Linked DNA regions of Homo sapiens: region 2 is linked to region 1. The links come from fine-mapping of genetic effects on gene expression. A gene starts in region 1. The other region holds a variant in brackets. All regions are shown on one strand. Distances are between the middles of the regions.

What was found.
Region 2: its variant is fine-mapped to the expression of CRYBG1 in whole blood (TOPMed, PIP 0.93).

Annotation. Positions count from the first base shown.
Region 1 is chr6:106,359,496-106,362,409 of GRCh38, forward strand. CRYBG1 (crystallin beta-gamma domain containing 1) reads left to right here and starts at 1,222. Exons shown (of 22, transcript NM_001371242.2): 1 at 1,222-1,586. The coding sequence starts at 1,414. RefSeq lists silencers at 1,023-1,232, 1,253-1,332 and an enhancer at 1,228-2,094.
Region 2 is chr6:106,536,928-106,539,841 of GRCh38, forward strand. CRYBG1 (crystallin beta-gamma domain containing 1) reads left to right here. Exons shown (of 22, transcript NM_001371242.2): 9 at 2,476-2,602. Among named protein-coding and RNA genes, the nearest start is that of RTN4IP1, 91 kb to the right of the region's middle. The variant G/A (reference allele first, on the strand shown) is at 1,422.

The DNA of each region.
Region 1 (2,914 bases):
GTTGGCCAGGCTGGTCTCAAACTCCTGACTTCAAGTGATCTGCCTGCCTCGGCTTCCCAAAGTGCTGGGATTACAGGCGTGAGCCACCGCTCCTGGCCTATAATCATACATTTAAAAGCCACATACGGAAGAATTTTCTAGGACAATGTCAACTCTCCATTAAAAAACTTTTCACACCCCAACCACATAAATATGTAAAAATTTGAGTTTTACCCTTATGATTTGTGCATTTTACTGTCTATAAATTACATCTTGATAAAAATGTAAATAAAAACAAATAAAAATGAATGTTCCTTGAATGAGTGAATAAACGAATGAATGAGTTGTGTTTTCAAAGAGGAAAATAAAGACATTACCGTGAAAGAGGATCTTGTACTGCATTGAATTTTTAAGTAGTGCTTAGTTCTTGCACTTTCTTTGCTCTAATGATGCCCAAAATAATTGTTCGTTTACTTACTTTGCTTAAGTATTAATTTCCTTTGCTATTTAGCCACGACTGTGAAGTTAAGACAAGAAAGTCATCAACAGTAATGCAGATGATGTAAATACCTTGTGGGACTGGCATTTAATTTACTGCGAGGGATCTATTAAGCTCTTGGGGAATTGGGGAATATGCCTAATTCCCTTCTGGCGTTTTTAATTTTTTTAATCCTTTTGTGTTTTATGAGATGTGAGTACAAATTAATTATTCAGACTCTTGAGAGAGGAGACGAGTTGGCGGAGTTGCCACCCGTGTTCACGAACAGGAACAGAAGCCACCAGCACATGACATTGCCCAAGCCACCCAGAGATCAGAGTGGAAGAGTCCTAATTGCTGGGCGGCCCAGCCCCGGGATGTGCCTCTCCCATCCTTCTCCAGGCGGGGCTCGTGGCTAAGCAGCGACTCACCCTGCCAGCCTGTCACAGGCCAAGAGCGGCCAACAACTCCGCAGGCGACAATGGCCGCTGCACCCCAGGCGCTGTGGAAGCCCGACCCGGCTCTGGGTCCCATCTTAGAGCCTGGGATGCAGTGTCGGGAGTCGCGGTGCCCAGAGCATCCAGTAGGTGTCGCTGTCCCACGGCCGCCGCGCGCCCCCGGGGTGGGGAGCCGGGGCGTGTCTGCCTCACCTGGGGCTCCCGGCGCGAGCGCCTCACCTGGGCTAGCGCCCCTTGCCGCCCGCGCCGCGCGGGGGCGCTCTTCCGCGGCTGGGTCCCCGCCTCCGCCCCAACAGCTCGGGCTGCAGTGCTGCTCGCGCTGCGCTGGGTGCTGGTTCTGCAACCCGCGGCCGTCCCCCCGCATCCGCGACGAGGGGGCGGGGTCCCACGGCGCGCTGAGAAAGGCGGGCGAGCTGGCGCTCAGGTGTGTTCTTCCATAGGGCCCGGGCGGCAGAGAGGACCGCGTCCCGGCAGTCGGAGCGGGAGGAGGACAAGACGATGCCGCTGTCCCCGCCAGCCCAGGGCGACCCCGGGGAGCCCAGCCCGTGCAGGCCCCCTAAGAAGCACACCACCTTCCACCTCTGGCGCTCCAAAAAGAAGCAGCAGCCGGCGCCGCCTGACTGTGGGGTGTTCGTTCCGCACCCGCTCCCGGCGCCTGCCGGAGAGGCCAGGTGAGCTCCTCGCCCGAGCCCTCCAGTCCCACCTCCTCCTCCTCCTCCTTCTCCTGCTGCGCTAGCCCTTGGACTCCTGACCCCACTTGGAGGAGGGGAAAGCCCCGGGGTCTGTTTCAGTCCGCAGGAGGGTACCCGGGTCCGGAGGGGAGCGATCGTAGCCGCTGGGGTTGACGAGGTTCCTCGCGGCTTTTGGTTCAGACCAAGCACCGGCGAGAGGAACTTGTGCCCACGCATGTGGCCTTTAGTATGACTGCAAAGTTTTCATGCAGGAGCCTCCCGCATCAGCCTGCTAACCAGAGCGGCGGGGAGTGAGGGTTGTTACCGTCCTAAATGATGGCGGGAACTCTGCTTTGGGGTTAGGCACTGCTTTTGAGCTAGTGTCTTTATTGTAAAGCTCTTTATTGTGAATATCTGTAAGATCTGTGCTCTTACAGATGTTATACCCCCATTCTCCTCGCAACATACGAAGGGAGGAGGAAGTGGCAGGAATGGTTACCCCCATTTCATGGGTGGAGGAACTGAGACCAAAGGATAAATGGCTTCTCCCCATTGGAGCCAGTGGCAGAGCTAGAGAGCACCTAGTTATCAAAACTGTAGTTACCATTGTGCTTTTTGATTTTTATCATGGTTTTGAAGTGGTTTTATTCTATATGTATAATTATTCAACTATAGCATCAGAGTTTATGCATTCGTTGAATAATAATCAATTTGAAGTAACAGCGTATTTACATGGCTCAGAGGTGTGAAATATTTATAGTGATGGACAATTGACAATGTCCAGTAAATCCTTCCAAATGTGTTTTTAAAATACACCCTATGAGGGCCAGAATAAAATTGTGCAAAATTTGCATTTTAGACATGGTTTTCCTTTTATTTCTTTCTTTCTTTTTTTTTTTTTTTTTCTGAGACGGAGTCTTGCTCTGTCACCCAGGCTGGAGTGCACTGGCCCAATCCCGGCTCACTGCAAGCTCCACCTCCCGGGTTCACGCCATTCTCCTGCCTCAGCCCCCGAGTAGCTGGGACCACAGGCGCCCGCCACCACGCCCGGCTAATTTTTTGTATTTTTAGTAGAAACGGGGTTTCACCGTGTTAGACAGGATGGTCTCGATCTCCTGACCTCATGATCCGCCCGCCTCGGCCTCCCAAAGTGCTGGGATTACAGGCATGAGCCACCGCGCCCGGCCTCTCCTTTTATTTGTAAAAAAAGTCAATTTTACGATCTATTTTCATTCACTTATTGTATTGAGTACCTTAGCTAAGTGCCATGTACTGCGATATAAAAAACAATGAGAGACAGGAATAATTGTGTCATCAAAGAATTGTTA
Region 2 (2,914 bases), 180 kb after region 1:
TCATACTCTGCATATGAGTTTTCAAATTCAAAGTCCACCCAGCATTAATAAATGTCTGTTTGAATTACCCAGCAGGCCTTCAGCACTCATTTACTAAGGGAGAACTTTCAGAACAGCAGTCTTTTCAAATGCATTCATTCATGTTTTCGGTTTTTTCACAAATTCCCCTCTACCCAGAATGACTTTCCTTCCATGAATGTTATGCAACTAAACCACATGCTTCAACAGAAGTGAAATGTTTAGTATTAGATGAATAAATCCCCTCTGAACTCAAGCTATAGAAGGAAAGACTTAATGAAAAGGGTACTTCGGTAAGAATCATTTCAAAATCTCAGATCGCTTGCTCGTGAGCCGTACATTCAGTTTTTGAAAAATTAAACCTGTTCACTTGTAAAGAAGTCAGACTTGGGACCTGCTTGGTTAGCCTAATACCATAATGTGTTACAGAACTGCCATTATTTTGTTAGAGAACAAAATCCATGGGTACTGTGCCTGTGATAGCTTTGAGCTCCAAAATACATGTAACGTATCCTTGGCTGTCATGCTTTAAACATAAGGAAGTGTAAAGTACCCTATTCTTAGCGTCTGTTTTCTTGTGGTTTAGAAGCATTACAGTAGTATTTAAAAGATAAGCCTCTTTTTTTCCTTAAGGTAACTTTTTTTGAAGCATAACATTTGTACAAAAAGGTACATAAACCCTAAATATATAAGCTGAGTGAATTTTCACAAAGTGAATACACAAGCGCAGTCACCATTCAGATCAAGAAAAAGAACATTCCCAGCATCGCAGAAACCCGTTTCTTTCATGCGTCCTCACGCCCTCTTCCCCAGGAACCATCATCCTGACTTCTAACACTGTAGTTCTGACCTCCTACCCATATCCCACACCTGGCCTCCCAACATTCTTTCATGTGTGTGTTGTCAAATCATCAGTAGGAGCCTGGTTGTAAATCTCTGTATAATTAGAGAGTCTAGAGAAGTTACCAGTTTATCCAGCGGAATCTTCACAAAAACCACCGCCAAAAATGTGCCTTGGGCCAAAATTGGGAAGAAGAAAAAAGCAAAGAGGGAGGGGTCAGACCCGTTTTGTTGGTAAAAGATTTCATTTACAGCCACTCTCTTCTTGGCATGGTGTTCTGGGGAACACAACATGGTGGAGTACCACGGCTAAAACATTTTAGCAAAACTAACCGAATTGATGAGTGTAAGTGATCACTAAGAAGTCTATGTTTGTTTATGAAGCAGGTACATTAACCCCTCTCTTATAGAAAAGTCACTTCTTCAGCATCCTCACCTTCTCAGAACCCTTCCCAGGAACGAAGATGTTTACAAGAAGACCTTGTAAAGTTTAGAGACAGGGCTAGTAGGCATGGTTTTCTGGTTTCCTGATTTCTGGCACATTAGAGGAGGGTGGGGCTGCT[G/A]GTTCCCCAACTGAAGCAGAAGTGACAGCTGACAAGCTGATAGAAGGGTGTGGTATTGAAAAGCCATAACAATCAGAACCAAGAACTCAAAAAGCTTTGTGGCCTGGGAACAAGCAGCCCCACAGAACTTCAGAGCCCCTGAGGACACCACTGTGCATTAAATAATGCTCACAGTGATGATCCTGAGTAACTGTGAAAAGAGTAAACTGTGTTCAATGCACTTCCTGCAATGAGAAAAATTGCCATCACAAAAATGATTAGGGCTGGGCATGGTGGCTCACACCTGTAATCCCAGCACCTTTGGGAGGCCAAGGCGGGCGGATCACCTGAGGCCAGGAGTTTGAGACCAGCCTGGCCAATATGGTGAGACCCCCTCTACTAAAAAAAAAATGCAAAACTTAGTCGGATGTGGTGGTGTGTGCCTGTACTCCCAGCTACTTGGAAGGCTGAGGCAGTAGAATCACTTGAACCAGGAGGCAGAGGTTGCAGTGAGCTGAGAGCAAGCCACTGTACTCCAGCCTGGGTGACAGAACAAGACTCCGTCAAAAAAAAAAAAAATTGATTAGGAACCTGGTTCTGGAATCGGCTTGAATCATTCCAGCCTTTCATACTTATAGCTGTGTGGCCTTGGGCAACTTACTTAACTTTATCTATAAAATGGGGACAATAGCTTCTCTTCCTCATAGCATGGTTGTGAGGATTAGATGAAGTTCTCAGTGGCATTCCTTGTAAGCTCTAGGGAGATGTTAGCTGTTACTAATGTTTGGCACCATGACAAATGATTAGATGGAACTTTGGAGCAATTAATAATACAAATTAAAATAAGGGGACAAAGCCAGCCAAGGAGAAAAGTAAAAGATCAAGAATAGGGGCATATAATGGCTTTATTTTTCCTTGAGTCTAGTGTGATTCTAACACCTGAGTCCAACCATTCATTATGTAGGTCCGTATCCTCTCCTGTTCTTTTCCTCTCATCCTGGGTACCAGACAGAAGGAAAAACTGAAACAAATGATGAGTCGGCTCCCTTTCTTTCCTTCCATGGTGGCTATTTAGGTGGCTGATTTATGAAGAACCTGGATTTCAGGGTGTTCCTTTCATCCTGGAACCTGGTGAATACCCTGACTTGTCCTTCTGGGATACAGAAGAAGCGTACATTGGATCCATGCGGCCTCTGAAAATGGTAAAAATGAAATCCAAATGTCCTTGTGGTGATTCTTTGTCAGCTTGACGTGGTAATTCACAGGGTGTGACTTTGAAGCAATAAAGCTGACTTTTAAGAAACAAATTTGTAGTAGATTGGACCTATTGCTCAATAGAAATCATGGAAAGAATAACTTGCTAGATGCTATAGATTAAAAAAAAAAAAAAAAAGGCAGGTAAGACTATGTCCTTTGTCTTTAAGGCATTCTCAGCCCTGCAGAGCTGCAGATGGGTGCGCAAAGCTTCAGCGCAGTGTAGGTTTAACAAGTGAGGAAAGTGAAGAATTAAACAT